2 linked regions of the Homo sapiens genome follow. The protein of the gene in region 1 interacts with the protein of each later gene in a biochemical or structural test. Each region holds a gene or a part of one and is shown on either strand. Other genes may lie near its edges.

What was found. Proteins that work in one complex are often made in the same cells at the same time.
Region 2: of the proteins of EEF2K (region 1) and EEF2, one has a biochemical effect on the other in vitro, tested with the Homo sapiens proteins (one study listed by BioGRID).

The regions. Positions count from the first base shown.
Region 1 is NC_000016.10:22,250,858-22,258,385, reverse strand, and holds part of EEF2K (eukaryotic elongation factor 2 kinase), read right to left. Parts: intron 7,236-7,528; coding exon 7,064-7,235; intron 1,639-7,063; coding exon 1,489-1,638; intron 1,134-1,488; coding exon 1,001-1,133; intron 744-1,000; coding exon 616-743; intron 1-615. UniProt on the Homo sapiens protein: Threonine kinase that regulates protein synthesis by controlling the rate of peptide chain elongation.
Region 2 is NC_000019.10:3,982,023-3,989,608, reverse strand, and holds the start of EEF2 (elongation factor 2), read left to right. Parts: upstream 1-4,145; 5' UTR 4,146-4,228; coding exon 4,229-4,231; intron 4,232-5,258; coding exon 5,259-5,473; intron 5,474-6,317; coding exon 6,318-6,499; intron 6,500-6,590; coding exon 6,591-6,802; intron 6,803-7,036; exon of another isoform or gene 7,037-7,102; intron 7,103-7,184; coding exon 7,185-7,363; intron 7,364-7,556; coding exon 7,557-7,586. UniProt on the Homo sapiens protein: Catalyzes the GTP-dependent ribosomal translocation step during translation elongation.

The DNA of each region.
Region 1 (7,528 bases):
AACATGCCTGTTTAGGAGCTGATATATTGTCTTAAAAAATAAAAAATCAGTCAGGGATTAAACCTAAGGCCTCCAAGAAAGGGCATCTGGAACAGAGGCTCAGAGGACCTGCCAGTATCCCCTAAAGCACTGACCACATTCCACAGCCCAGAGCTGGAGAAAGCATTCCACTCTATGTCCAGCATCCCAAGCTGGTCTTTGCAACATTCTCTTGTCCCTGGTCCAAGTAGCAATGGGAGGATGGGAGGTATGTTGGTGAGGTGCCTGGAGAGCCAGGTCTAAGACTAGTTCAGTCATTTGTCAATACATCACACAAACACACACACACACCACATGCCTTCTCACTATCTCCACGTGCCTGTTCCCCTCACTCTGGTAAAAAATGGGCCCAACCTAAGCAGATACCAGCTGCTCGATTGGAAGGACGCTCAGGAGGGCTTTGTGCACTGAGCTGGAGGGGACGGGCTGGGGCATGGATGGGACAGATGCTTCCAGCCCTGGTATTCATCAGTTAAGCACTGCTTGACCTGGCTGTCACCACACAGGGGAGCAGGGCTTGCTTTGCAAGTAGCAGAAGGGCCTGCCAGGCCAAGCAGGGTCACACTGGGCACCCACCAGCAGCTTGGTGTTCTGATTCACTGCATCCCTCTCCCGGGGCGAGAGGTCAAAGGGAGCAAGGCCCATGCTCTCGCAAATCCGGTTGCAGGCATGAGAGTAGAAGAAGAGCGCCATCCCGCGGACACCTGTGGACAGAGCGGGGGTGTCTGGAGTGTTGCTTTGCTCTGTGACGGGGGACAGGCAGTGGTGGGCCTCATACATATGGCCAGGGCAGGTATAAAACGTGCCAAGCTGGGAGGCATCAGACATCCAGGCTCCCATCTCCATGATCTTGAAAAAGCGCGTACAGTGTCTCAGCCTGTTTCCTTGGCTGTACGAAGAACTCAGAGGTTTTAGCAGGGAGCGTGGTTTCTGCAGAAACAGGCTGGCTTTCCCCACGTACCTAGGTTGCCGTCTCCAAAGTCAGTGCCCGTCTCCGTGTGGATCTGTGGGTCAGTGTAGAGATCCCCAACTCCCTGGATGTCCACCACTATCAGCTGATGGCCGGAACGCTCAAAAGTGAAGTGGCTGAAGGCCTACAGGGGACAGGAAGGAAAACGAGATGTCAAGAGACAGGCTGAGGTCTGTGCAGGCACTGGCCACGCCTCTGCCCATGCTGAGGGGCTTTCTCTTCAAGGAGTTATATAGAGGAAAAGACAAAGGAAAAAGGCCTCTTCAGTTGGGCAGGGACCTTGGGCTGCAGGTCCTGTGGCCACCTTAGGTGACAGAAGCTGTCATGGGGTGACGGGTCTCCTTCTGAATGCTCCAAGAGGCTTCTCTGGGGGTGAGACTCCAAGCCCACAGGGACCTTCCTCTTTAGGGGCTGAGCCTGGCCAGGATCTCACCCCAAGGGCTGTGGTGGGCAGAGGGTGGAGGTGAGCTCGGCCTCACCTGCGGCGTCAGGCGGATGTTGTCATCGCGGACAAAGCCAGAGTTGGAGTTGTACTTGATGTACTTGCCCTCGATGTAGTGCTCCAGGTGGAAGAGGGGCTTGCCCGGTCTGTCCTTCAGCTCGATGATGCACATCTGCATGATGTCCACCTGGTGGGATGGGGAGTGGGCTCAGGCGGGAGGGCCCAGGCGCACCTCCTCTGAGAAGCGGCAAGGGGAGGGCTCAGAGGAACTCGCCTGCCTGGGCTCAGACCCTGGCTCCATGACTTACTAGCTCTCTATTGTAGGAGCTCCTGATGATGCCCAGAATCTAATCTCCTCTTTTCCTTTAATTTTTTTAAAATTAAAAAAAATATATTTTTAGGCTGGGCACGGTGGCTTACATCTGTAATCCCAGCACTTTGGGAGGCTGAGGCAGGTGAATCAGTTGAGGTTAGGAGTTCGAGACCAGCCTGGCCAACATGGTGAAATCCTGCCTCTACTAAAAATACAAAAATTAAGGCTGGGCATGGTGGCTCACACCTGTAATCCCAGCCCTTTGGGAGGCCAAGGTGTGTGGATCACCTGAGGCCAGGAGTTGGAGACCAACCGTGGCCAACATGGTGAAACCCTGTCTCTACCAAAAATACAAAATTAGCCAGGCATGGTGGCACATGCCTGTAATCCCAGCTACTCTGGAGGCTGAGGCAGGAGAATCACTTGAACCTGGGAGGCAGAGGTTGCAGTGAGCCAAGATTGCACCACTGCACTCCAGCCCTGAGCAACAAGAGCAAAACTCCGTCTCAAAAAAAAAATTAATAAAATAAAAATACAAAAATTAGCTGGGCGTGCTTGTGCGTACCAAAAATCCCAGCTACTCAGGGTGTCGAGGCAGGAGTATCACTTTAACCCAGGAGGCAGAGGTTGCAGTGAGCCAAGATCATGTCACTGCACTCCAGCCTGGATGACAGAGTGAGACTCCGTCTTAAAAAAAAAAAAATTTATTTTAGAGACAGGGTCTCACTCTGTCGCCCAGGCTGGAGTGCAGTGTCATAATCATGGCTCATTACAGCCTCATACTTCTGGGCTCAAGTGATCCTCCCACCTCAGCCTCCCGAGAAGCTAGGACTACAGGCGTGTGTCACTACACATGGCTCATATCTAAATTTTTTTATAGAGACGAGGTCTCACTATGTTGCCTAGGCTGGTCTTGAACTGGCCTCAAGAACTGGCCTCAAGCAATCCTCTTGTCTTCCAGCATCCTCCCAGAGCATTAGGATGACAAGCTGCAGCCACTGTGCTCAGCTCTGTTTTCCTTTGAGTTTTAAAAGGGTACACAGCCACCCACTAGGGATGACATTGCTAAGCTTCCCTTGCAGCTAAGTGTGGCCACATGACTGTGCCCAGCCAATGGGAAGTGAGCATTGCAATGATGTAACTCCAGCCTGCCCTGTAAGGTGGACTCTGCTTGGGAGCCAGAATTGATTATGTGGTCCATGGCAAACCCCTGAGGGGATGGCAGAGAAAAAAGACCAAAGGAACGAGTTCTCTAGATGGCTTCAAGGAGATGAGGCACAAACAAGCCTACCCCAAGCCACCCACCAATGCAAGACCTCCACACAAGTGAAAAAGAAACCATTTCGTGTCCACACATATTTTGTGGGTCTGTTTGCTAAGCAACTTAGACTATGCCTTACAGTAAAACTGTGAATTTGGGAACATTTCTGAATTTCACCTCTCTGTGCCTCAGTTTCTTTACCTGCATAAAGAGGGTCTCAGGCTCAGTCTGTGAATTAAACTTATTGATGCAAAAAGGAGCCAGGCAATGTTTGCTTTCATTTTATTTTATATTTTATTGCCCAGGCTGTTGCCCAGGCTGGACTGCAGTGGCACGATCTTGGCTCACTGCAACCTCTGCCTCCCAGGTTCAAGCAATTCCTCTGCCTCAGCCTCTTGAGTAGCTGGGACTACAGGCACCCGCCTCCATGCCTGCCTAATTTTTGTATTTTTAGTAGAGATGGGTTTTACCATGTTGGCCAGGCTGGTCTTGAACTCCTGACCTCAAGTGATCCGCCCCCCCACCCCGGGCTTTCCAAAGTGCTGAGATTACAAGCATGAGCCACTGTGCCTGGCAACTCATTTTTATCAGGAGCTACAATTCTAGAGAAATATAAACCAACCTCTAAACAGCAGTTTTCTCCCTGCAATGGGAAATTATAGGGAACTTTGACATTCCTTGCCGAATTTTTTTTGTTTTTATAAAGTCTATGTTTAATTTTGTACACAGAAGAAAATGTATAAATAGTGCATATGGTTTGTAAAGTGGAGTAGGGGAGATTAGGGACTCTAGCTTGCACCTCTTGCCCTGTTACACAAGGACTCATCCTTGGTTCCCATGTCCTCCTCAATGCCACCTCCTGGGAGGATTAGGTCCAGGTTTCCCAAGGAAACGACCATCCATGGAGAGTGGGTCACCAGACATGCAGACAACAGATGCAGAGGCCGAAGGGGTCCTGATCTGAGAGGTGAGAACTTGCCCCAAACAAGGCTTCAATGGGTTCTGAGAACCGGCCTGAGGGGAAGGCAGGGAGCGGCGGTTCTCAGAGGGTTCTGCCCAAAGGCTGGTCCCATCCCTACAAGGAAACTTACAGCAGGGCCACCTGCTGGGCCAGAGGGCTCCCTGGGCGAGGGGCAGTGGTACAGCCACAGTGGACAACCAGCACCTTCTCAAACAACCACGTCTCTCTCCCTCCCTTAAGTCAACCACATTATTATTATTATTATTATTATTGTTACTACTACTACTACTACTACTATTTGGGGATGGAGTCTTGCTCTGTCACCCAGGCCGGAGTGCAGTAGCCCAATCTCGGCTCACTGCAGCCTCCGCCTCTCGTGTTCAAGTGATTCTCCTGCCTCAGCCTCCCAAGTAGCTGGGATTACAGGCGTGCACCACCATGCCCAGCTAATTTTGTATTTTTAGTAGAGGCGGGGGTTTCACCATGTTGGCCAGGCTGGTCTCGAACTCCTGACCTCAGGTGATCCGCCCACTTCAGCCTCCCAAAGTGCTGGGATTACAGGCATGAGCCACTGTGCCAGGCCTACCACAGTATTATTTACTGGACACCTAGGCACTAGGAGACAGCAGTGAACATGATAAAATAAAATCTCTGCCTTTAGGGGAGAGAAGCACCTAAAATATTAACTAAATGAATGACATACTAACTGCTCCAAAGAACAGGAAAAAAAAAAAAAGTTAGAATGATGTGACAGAGGTGACTGGGGCAGAGGGACCACTTCTTAGGGTTGTCTGAGATGGGCTGGCTGAGGAGGTGACACAGGATCTGAGACCTGAACTATAAGAAGTAGCTAGCCATGCAAGAATTACGGTGACACAAGATGCCCGCCAAGCCCACAGCCAGGGCCAAGGTTTTGGGGCAGGAACAAGCTTGTGGAGGAAGAGAAAGGAGGCCAGGCTGGAAGGCCGCAAATTGCAGAGGAAGCCACAGCCCCCCAGGGTGGGGACTGTGGCTTCTTGCGCCTGCCTCAAGTATGCTTCATCAAGGGCTCTGCAAACAGCAGGTGCTCAATAAATTCTGCACACCCAGGAGACTGTGCGTTGTATGTAGTAGATGCTCAAGCTGTGGAAGATCTCAGCTGTGGGCTCATGCAGGGCAGAGGCATGGATCCTTCCTCAAATGCCGAAAGGCAACAGGGAATTCTGCTTGGCCTCAGTCACTCATCACCCTAGGGGCTCAAATGAAGGTGCCAACCTAGCAGGGGGTTGAAAAGCCTGCATTTGAGACCTGGCTACAGCTCTGCCTGGTTGGGGAAGTCATTTAGCCTCTTTGAGCCCAGGGTTTCCCAAAGAGCAGACATAGTATCCACTATGATATGGTTTGGCTGTGTCCCCACTCAAAGCTCATCTTGAATTGTAGCTCCCATAATTCCCACGTGTTGTGGGAGGGACCTGGTAGGAGATAATTGAATCATGGGGGTGGTTTCCCCCATACTGTTCTCATGATAGTGAATAAGTCTCACGAGATCTGATGGTTTTATAAGGGGAAACCCCCTTTGCTTGGTCCTCAATCTCTCTTGTCTGCCACCAGGTAAGATGTGCCTTTTGCCTTCTGCCATGATTGTGAGGCCTCCCCAGCCACATGGAACTATCTGTCCATTAAACCTCTTTTTCTTTTATAAATTACCCAGTCTTGGGTATGTCTTTATCAGAAGTGTGAAAACGGACTAATATACATTCCCAGCTCTTTCTTCCGCTTTTTCTTGGGAATCTCACCTTTTCCAGTCTCAGTCCCTGTGGTCTGGGTGGAACACCTACATTCCTAGCTCTAAGGGCAGGCACATGGCTAGGGTGTGCCCAATCTGCATATTCCTGCCCCTTGGCCACTGTGATTGGCTCGGCAATAGGGATCTGACTTAATCAGAGCCAATGAAACGCAGCTCTGGGACTTTTATTGGAACTTCTGGGGAAATAGGTTTTGTCATTCCAACAAGAACTTGGGCCTGCTGGGGGCCAGAGTGCTACCACTAGTGCAGAGGCTGCCTGAGAATGACGCCAACCCAGAAGAACACCCAGGCCAGAGATGGAGGAAGATTCTGACAACCTCAGTTTAATCCTGCATCCAGCCGTGCCTGTGGCAGCATTATTTTTCAGTTACATAAGGCAATGAATTCCCTTTTCGGATTAAGCAGTTTGAGTGGGTTTCTGTCATTTGCAAACAAAAATCCTGACTAATAGATCCCATCTGTAATTGAGGATAAAAACATTCCGACCTCAGAGCTCTGTTTTTAGGAATAAATGACTCTGGAACAAGTGCAATGGCTCACGCCTGTAATCCCAGCCCTTTGGGAGGCCGAGGTGGATGGATTGCTTGAGGCCAGGAGTTTGAAACCAGCCTGGGCAACATGGCAAAACCCTTTCTCTACAGAAAATACAAAAATTAGCTAGGCATGGTGGCATACCCCTGTAGTCCCAGCTACTCAGGAGGCCAAGCTGGGAGGATTGTTCAAGCCCAGGAGGTTGAGGCTGCAGTGAGCTGTAATTATGCCACTGCACTCTGGCCTGGGCAACCAAGAAAGATCCTGTCTCAAAAAAAATAAAAATAAAATAAATGACTTGGTTCATCATGCTCAGTAAACAGTGGTTGTTATTAGCTACTATTAAGAAGGTGAAAGAGGCCAGGTATGGTGGCTCACACCTGTAATCCCAGCACTTTGGGAGGCCAAGGCAGGCAGATCACTTGAGGTCAGGAGTTCGAGACCAGCCTGGCCAACATGGTGAAACCACATCTCTACTAAAAATACAAAAATTAGCCAGATGTGGTGGCAGGCACCTGTATGTAATCCCAGCTACTGGGGTGGCTGAGGCAGGAGAATCGCTTGAACCTGGGAGATGGAGGTTGCAGTGAGCCAAGATCATGCCACTGCACTCCAGCCTTGGTGGTGGGTGACAGAGCAAGACTTCATCTCAAAAAAAAAAAAAAAGAAGGTGAAATAGGGATTCACCATGGCCCTCTTTCCCAGACACTGTGCCCAGCTGCCCTGGCATGGAAAGGGGGCAGGTAGTGGGGCCACGCACCTGCTTGGGGGGCTTGTGCCGATTATACTCCTCCCCCCAGAGCTTGGCCTCCATCTGTAGACGCACGTCCTCAAAGTACACATCCCGGTCTACGGGCTCGATGTAGCGCTTCGCCACGTAGTTGGAGGCGCCCTTCCACTGCTGGGCATGCAAGAAGTTGGAGAGCTTCTTCCTGTGGGAAGAGGCAACAGGGGGCCTACCTGGGTACTCTGGGGTTCACCAGGGACACAGCCCTGGTCCTCAGGACAGCAAGACCCTGTCTGATGTGGCTGGGTGGCTGGCAGCAGGAACAAAATGCAGGAGGTAAGAAGGACGTCCCCACCCCTCTGCATCCTTCAAAGAGCTGGGACAGGGGGATTAAAGGTCACTGTTAAAGGTCTCCTATCCCATTTCCCTTGACCTCCCAACACCAGGGCAGAGGTAAGTGGGGTGTTCCCTGTTCTTCCTGAGCCCATCGTCACAGCC
Region 2 (7,586 bases), on another chromosome or scaffold:
CACGCACCTCCGCCTCCCAAAGTGCTGGGACTACAGGCGTGAGCCATTGCGCCTGTTCTTACTACACAGACTCACCAGGCCTCCCTGAACCCATTTGTTTAATCATCTAAAAGACAAAATCCACTTTTTTTTTTTTTTTTTTTGAGACAGAGTCTTGGTCTGTTGCCCAGGCTAGAGTGCAATGGTGCCATCTCAGCTCACTGCAACCTCCACCTCCCGGGTTCCAGCAATTCTCCTGCCTCAGTCTCTCGAGTAGCTGGAACTACAGGTGTCTGCCACCATGCCCAGCTAATTTTTGTATTTTTAGTAGAGATGGGGTTTCATCATATTGGCCAGGCTGGTCTCGAACTCCTGACCTCATGATCTGCCCGCCTTGGCCTCCCATAGTGCTGGGATTACAGGCGTGAGCCACCACGTTTTTTGTTTTTTTTTTTTTTTTTTGAGATGGAGTCTCGCTCTGTCGCCCAGGCTGGAGTGCAGTGGCGCGATCTCGGCTCACTGCAAGCTCCGCCTCCCAGGTTCACGCCATTCTCCTGCCTCAGCCTCCCGAGTAGCTGGGACTACAGGCGCCTGCCACCATGCCCGGTTAATTTTTTGTATTTTTAGTAGAGACGGGGTTTCACCATGTTAGCCAGGATGGTCTTGATCTCCTGACCCCATGATCTGCCCGCCTCGGCCTCCCAAAGTGCTGGGATTACAGGCGTGACCCACCGCGCCCGGCCTTTTTTTTTTTTTTTTTTTTTGAGACGGAGTCTCTCTCTGTCACCCAGGCTGGAGTGCAGTGGCACAATCTCAGCTCGCTGCAACCTCCACCTCCTAGGTTCAAGCGATTCTCGTGCCTCAGCCTCCCGAGTAGCTGGGATTACAGGCACGTGCCACCACACCCAGCTAATTTTTTTGTATTTTTAGTAGAGACAAGGTTTCGCCATGTTGGCCAGGATGGTCTCAATCTCCTGAGCTCATGATCCGCCTGCCTCTGCCTCCCAAAGTGCTGGGATTACAGGCATAAACCACCGTGCCCGGCCCGTTTTCCCAAATCTGAAATGCATCTAGACAACGGTTGCAGGACCGGGCTCCTTCCCGATTAAACCACTACTTGAGTCGGATTTGGCTGCACCTTTACTAGCTCTGTGAACGTGGGCAAATGACTTAACTTATCTGAGTCTCCATTTTCTCAGGCGTAAAGGAGGCCACCCGAAGCCCAGGGTGTGGGTAGGTTAGCTGAAGTATTTGATTTAAAGGACCGTGAGGTCAGGTCCTAGTAAACGCTCAATAAACTGTTAAAAGACAGTGTTGGCCGGGCGCGGTGGCTCACGCCTGTAATCCCAGCGCTTTAGGAGGCCAAGGCGGGCAGATCACGAGGTCAGGGGTTCAAGACCAGCCCGGCCAACATGGTGAAACCCCTGTCTCTACTAAAAACACAAAAAAATTACCCGGGTGTGGTGGCAGGCGCCTGTAATCCCAGCTAATCGGGAGGCTGAGGCAGGTGAATCGCTTGAATCGGGTGGCGGAGGCTGCAGTGAGCTGAGACCGCACCACTGCACTCCAGCGTGGCAACAGAGCGAGACTTGGTCTTAAAAAAAAAAAAAAAAAAAAAAAAAAAGGCAGTGTCGAGAGGCCTGCACTGGCGACTGTCGGTCAGCAGGGGCCGCTACTGCGGTCTCTGAGCTCTCCTGGCGCCGCAGCAGGCGCATGCGCAGCGGAGCTTCTCTGCAGAGGTGAATTTTTTTATTGGTCCCCACCCTAAAAGACCCAGCGTATATTTATTATTGTACTTATTACAGCTGACCTGGTTGTGGCTGCTTGTGGTACTCCAGGATTCTGCTCTTCATGGATGTGGGGATGACAGTGGGAGAGATCCTTCCCTGCCAACACCTGGCTCCATCCCTGCAGTTATGGGGTTGAAAATTCCCCTTTTTCCCTTAAGCTCTCCCCCTAGTTCTTTAAATTACATGATGTTAGAATTTTTCAATAAGCAACCCATGCACTTGAGAAGAAATTCAACCCCTCTTTTATTAAGTTCCGGGATACCTGTGAACAGCCCCCCCTCCTTTTTTTTTTTTTTTTTTTTTGAGACAGAGTCTTACTCTCAGTCGCACAGGCTGGAGTGCATGCAGTGCCGTGATCTCGGCTCACTGCAACCTCTGCCTCTCGGGTTCAAGCGGTTCTCCTGCCTCAGCCTCCAAAGTAGCTGGGATTTCAGGCGTTCACTACCACGCCGGGCTAATTTTTTTATTTTTAGTAAAGACGGGGTTTCTCCATATTGGGTAGGCTGGTCTCGAACTCCTGACTTCAGGTGATTTGCCTGCCTCGGCCTCCCAAAGTGCTGGGATTACAGGCGTGATCCACCGCAAGCAGCCTAACCCCTCTTTAATTTTTAAAATTTTTAAAAATTTTTTTGAGACGGAATCTCGCTCTGTCGCCAGGCTGGAGAGCAGTGGCGCGATCTCGGCTAACTGCAACCTCCGCCTCTCGCCTGACACCTCTTTTAATGAAAACCTTTCCATTACATCTCTGAAATGCTCCCACTTTGCACGGAAAAAACGGCTGCGAAGCCCCCAATAGGAAACGCAACACGTAGCAGGTGCTCAGTGCATTTAAAAATTTTGAAGAATTTTATTATTAATAATGCGAAACTGACTACCCCTCTGCTAAAAACTCATGCCCCAAATGGCGCATGCGCTTGACTTGCAACTTAACTAAACGCGTCACAGGTACAGGTGTAGGTGGTTAGGGACCCCGGGCGCTCCCATCTGCTCCCTGCCGCGCCCTCTGCCTTTCAGAGCCTCAATCCTTTCGGAAGATACTTTTCAGTTTTCCACTGGGTTAAATGGTGATAGGAAGAGCAATCATCCGTTAAATGAAACCCAAGGTTGAGACAGCGCTTTGTAAAGCAAAGTGCCCGAAGCATTCGTGAGGGGGAGGAGTGTACAGGTTTATTTTAGAGTCCAGGCTGGAATTTGCATTGCTTTTTGTGGATCCACACCTCCCCCTCTCCCAGCCCAGGAAAAGCACTGCAGTGGCTCTCCTGTTTCACAAAGTGAGTTTAAGGAAAGATGTACCGCAGGGGGTTCATTTGCACTGTGAGAACATCATTCATGCAAGAAATGCTGAGTACCTACTATGTGCTAAACAGCGGGTTGGGCTTTTCATAAGGGATAGAGTTACACAATTGAATGCCAATTCATGAGATATGAAATACATTCAACTGTTTCTTAGGGTCAGATTAGGACACAAATGCTAAACAGTCTTCCTGCGCCTCCCCCTGGAGAGGAAATGAAATAGAAAATGAAATTGTGCCAGTAAACCGCTTAGCCGGGTGCCTGGGACATGGCAAACCAGTCCTGAAATAAATAACTGTTTTATTAATAGCAATCTTAGCTAATTAAAATAGATAGCGTTTATTGAGCGTTGGGTATCAGGCACGGTCCTAATTCTTTTAGATGTCTTTAGTTCGTTTCACTCTCCCCCAAACAATAGGGTGGTATTGATCACCTCCGAGCAGGTGAAATTGAGGCACAGAGAAATCCTAGTAGCTGGTAGAAGAACACGCAGTGTGGTCAAGCTAGCAAGGTGTTTGGTCCACTGCTATATCTACAAAACCCCTAACAATGCCTGGTGTATAGATGCTCAGTATGCATTTGTGGGATCAGTGATTCCGATGCCTGCTTCTTATAAAGTTTTTATTTAGAAATAATTACAGGTAAGGAGTTGCAAAAACAGTATAGTGGTCGCGAGTGTCCTTTTTCCCTCGGCTTCTCCCAGGGGTATCGTCTTACGTAACAATGTCCAAACAGGGAAATTGACTTGGGTATAATCCACAGACTCTATTCACCTTGTAAATTGGTTTTAATAGAAGTACTGGACAACTTGTAAGCTAATATCGTTGCTATGGTTCTCGTTCTCAGCTAAAACGGCGCTCTTTACTTTGTGCACCTGAACACTGCACACCGAGGGCGACCACCGCCCCCGAGATGCCCAGCTTCTATTCTAGAGCGCCGCGCCGGCGCCGAATGGGTTAACGGGCGGGGGGACACGCCTCCGTGCGCTTGCGCGGCGTCCCTTCGCCCCGCCTTCGCAGCGCAGTCACATGACCCGCCCAACCGGCGTCCGCCTATAAAAAGCTGAGTGTTGACGTCAGCGTTCTCTTCCGCCGTCGTCGCCGCCATCCTCGGCGCGACTCGCTTCTTTCGGTTCTACCTGGGAGAATCCACCGCCATCCGCCACCATGGTGAGTAACCCTGCCTCGCTGGTGCCCCGGAGCGGCGGCGGGGCCTCCGCGGGGCCTACGCTGCCTAGCCTGGGACGCTGGGGCCCCCCGTGCCAGGAGGAGACGTAGCGGCGGCGGGGCCGGAGGACCCGGGGCTGGGGAAGCGGCCGCCGCCATGTCTGTGCGCCGCGCTGTTCACCGAGCCCTTTCTCCGTTTCCGAGGGCGCCATAACCTTGCCCAGACCTGGTTGGAGCTGGGTTGTTAGCGGGGATGGGGGTGGGGAATGATGATGTGGCAGGCGTAGTAATGGCGGGCACCGCGGTGGAAGCGGGGAGACAGGGAGGCGCCTTATGTAACCCGCGGGCCGCGAGTTTGAGATCGATTTTCTGCCGGGGGACTAGGGGCGGCAGGGAATGGCAGAACGAGCAAAGCGACACCTGAAAGGCTCCCCTTTTCCTTCCAAATACCTTCTCCTGATGCTGTTAATCGTCGACCTTAGGCACTTGTCCTTCCTATGACTCCCAGATGTACAAAGACTCTTATTGAGACACGAGGTGTAGGCTTGTGGCAGTTAGGGCCGTTCCGGCTCCCCGTTATTTCCTGGGGTGGGTGGCCTTGTCTGATCCCGTTTGCCAAGGGGTGACCTTGCATTTTATGATGAAGCTTCTTGCTCGGGGAAGTTTGGGTGGCCCGGTGACAACGTGGAGGGGGCTTTAGGAGAGGATTCATCCCTTACGTGTTTGGCCCCAAATGAGACTTTAGTATTTGTACCTGGTATCAAGGAAATCTGTTGACACTCAGTTTTATTCCTGAGCACTTTTATTTCTGGGTTGTCAATCATGAATGACACCTATTAACGGTGGTTCCTTGGAGATTGCGGGGTGGCTCTTAAGGGGTGTTAGGCTGGCAAGATTCGGTGGGCTTGGGGCACCCCAGCACCAACCCCCTCCTGGCCTTGGGCATGCTGGTTCGTTTGGACTGAACGCTCCGTGCCATGCTGTGTTCCTGGAAATCACGAGCTGGTCTGAGCCTCCTTGTCTTGCCCAGGTGAACTTCACGGTAGACCAGATCCGCGCCATCATGGACAAGAAGGCCAACATCCGCAACATGTCTGTCATCGCCCACGTGGACCATGGCAAGTCCACGCTGACAGACTCCCTGGTGTGCAAGGCGGGCATCATCGCCTCGGCCCGGGCCGGGGAGACACGCTTCACTGATACCCGGAAGGACGAGCAGGAGCGTTGCATCACCATCAAGTCAACGTGAGCTCCCTGTGCCCTCTGTACCCAGGCAGGGAGGTGCTGGCCTGGCAGCTGGAGGCCACTGGGCCAGGGTGCGCGGGGAGAGACTTGGCAACGTCTCTTTCCCCTGGTTTCTTAATTCATGGGAGAATGAGTGAGGTTCAGTCCAGCGAGACAGGATGGAGAGGCACAGGGATTCGGGGTACTGCGAGCTGGAAGGTTTTCTTGAGGAGGGGGCTTAACTCCGTGGTTCTCCCTCCCTGGGGGACTTGCCCCCACTCCTACAATATCTGGAGAGGTTTGGCTGTCACACCTGGGAGGGGAGGGTGTTCTAGTGCTTGGGACGCTGGGAAGCTCCTGTGTTGCACTGGATGATGTTCATTCCATGTCAGTTTCTGGCCCCGATATGAGTAGGGGGAGCGCAGAGTACGGTGACCCCAACTGCTTTTTGTCCTGGGTTGGTACATTGGTGAGGGACTCTGGCTAAGGCTCTTCATTTCCCCTGGAGCAGGGGCAGAAGTGAGGAGGGGAGGGTCGGAGTCTCTGGAGGCTTTTGCCGTCCTGCTGGGTCTTTTAGTTGCTACTTTGAGTCAGGTGTGATGAATCTTGGGACCAAGTCGGTGGGGCAGGATGTCTGGTCAGGAGGGCTCTGAGGATCTGGCTATGGGGCTGGTACCAGGAGTTCCCTGTCATGGGGGTGGCATGTCTCGGACAGAGGCAAAGGACAAGGGTGGGTTGGCTCTTGTGGGAGCCTCTCCAGGGATGAGTCATGGAGGGAGGAGCAGCCTGGCTTCTGACAGCATCCCAGACTCCCTGGGCCAGGTGTGTGGCTCCTGTCCCCCTGACGAGTCCCTCCCTCCATCAGTGCCATCTCCCTCTTCTACGAGCTCTCGGAGAATGACTTGAACTTCATCAAGCAGAGCAAGGACGGTGCCGGCTTCCTCATCAACCTCATTGACTCCCCCGGGCATGTCGACTTCTCCTCGGAGGTGACTGCTGCCCTCCGAGTCACCGATGGCGCATTGGTGGTGGTGGACTGCGTGTCAGGTAAGCAGTGGGTCCCCCTGAGGCACGGCCTGGAACCGGGGGCCATCCTTGCTTGAGGATGACAGCGCCGCCCTGTCCCCCGTGTCCCCAGGCGTGTGCGTGCAGACGGAGACAGTGCTGCGGCAGGCCATTGCCGAGCGCATCAAGCCTGTGCTGATGATGAACAAGATGGACCGCGCCCTGCTGGAGCTGCAGCTGGAGCCCGAGGAGCTCTACCAGACTTTCCAGCGCATCGTGGAGAACGTGAACGTCATCATCTCCACCTACGGCGAGGGCGAGAGCGGCCCCATGGGCAACATCATGGTACGGCCCTCCCTAGCTGGGTGGTGGGCTTGCCGCAGCGGGATCTGCAGGAGCCGGTGGGGAGTGGAGTTGAGCTGAGGGGGACTGGAAGTGTGTTTTTGCCAGGAATGTTGGGTGACAGAGAAGGGGGCTGGAATGTTTTCATCCGACTTGACCCAGCCCTTGATCTTTGGGCAGCTGGAAGAGACGAGCTCAGGGAACGCTGCCCTGGGTGGTGGAGGGGCTGGCCCCCCTATTCGTGATGACTGATCATTTCTTCACTTTGACCAGATGTCTACTGAAGAAAGCCTGCGTCTGAGGCCCATGCCCAAGGCGCCCAGCCCGTAGCTTCAGGCTCTGCGCAGGGGCCCTCACGGCTGCTTCTCGTTTCTCACACTTCCAGATCGATCCTGTCCTCGGTACCGTGGGCTTTGGGTCTGGCCTCCACGGGTGGGCCTTCACCCTGAAGCAGTTTGCCGAGATGTATGTGGCCAAGTTCGCCGCCAAGGGGGAGGGCCAGTTGGGGCCTGCCGAGCGGGCCAAGAAAGTAGAGGACATGATGAAGAAGCTGTGGGGTGACAGGTGAGCCCCGCGGGATATGGTGGGGGATTCCTGACACCTGGGGGTAGTGGCAGCGACGTAGGGGCGTGGTGTGCTATTCACAGCGTGGCTCAAGCCCACCAGGTCTTGCCCAAGCATGTCCCCTTGGCGACCACCCTCCCCAAGTCATCCCCTGGAGACCCTAACTTGATTTGGCTTGGCCTCTCCTTGCCAGGTACTTTGACCCAGCCAACGGCAAGTTCAG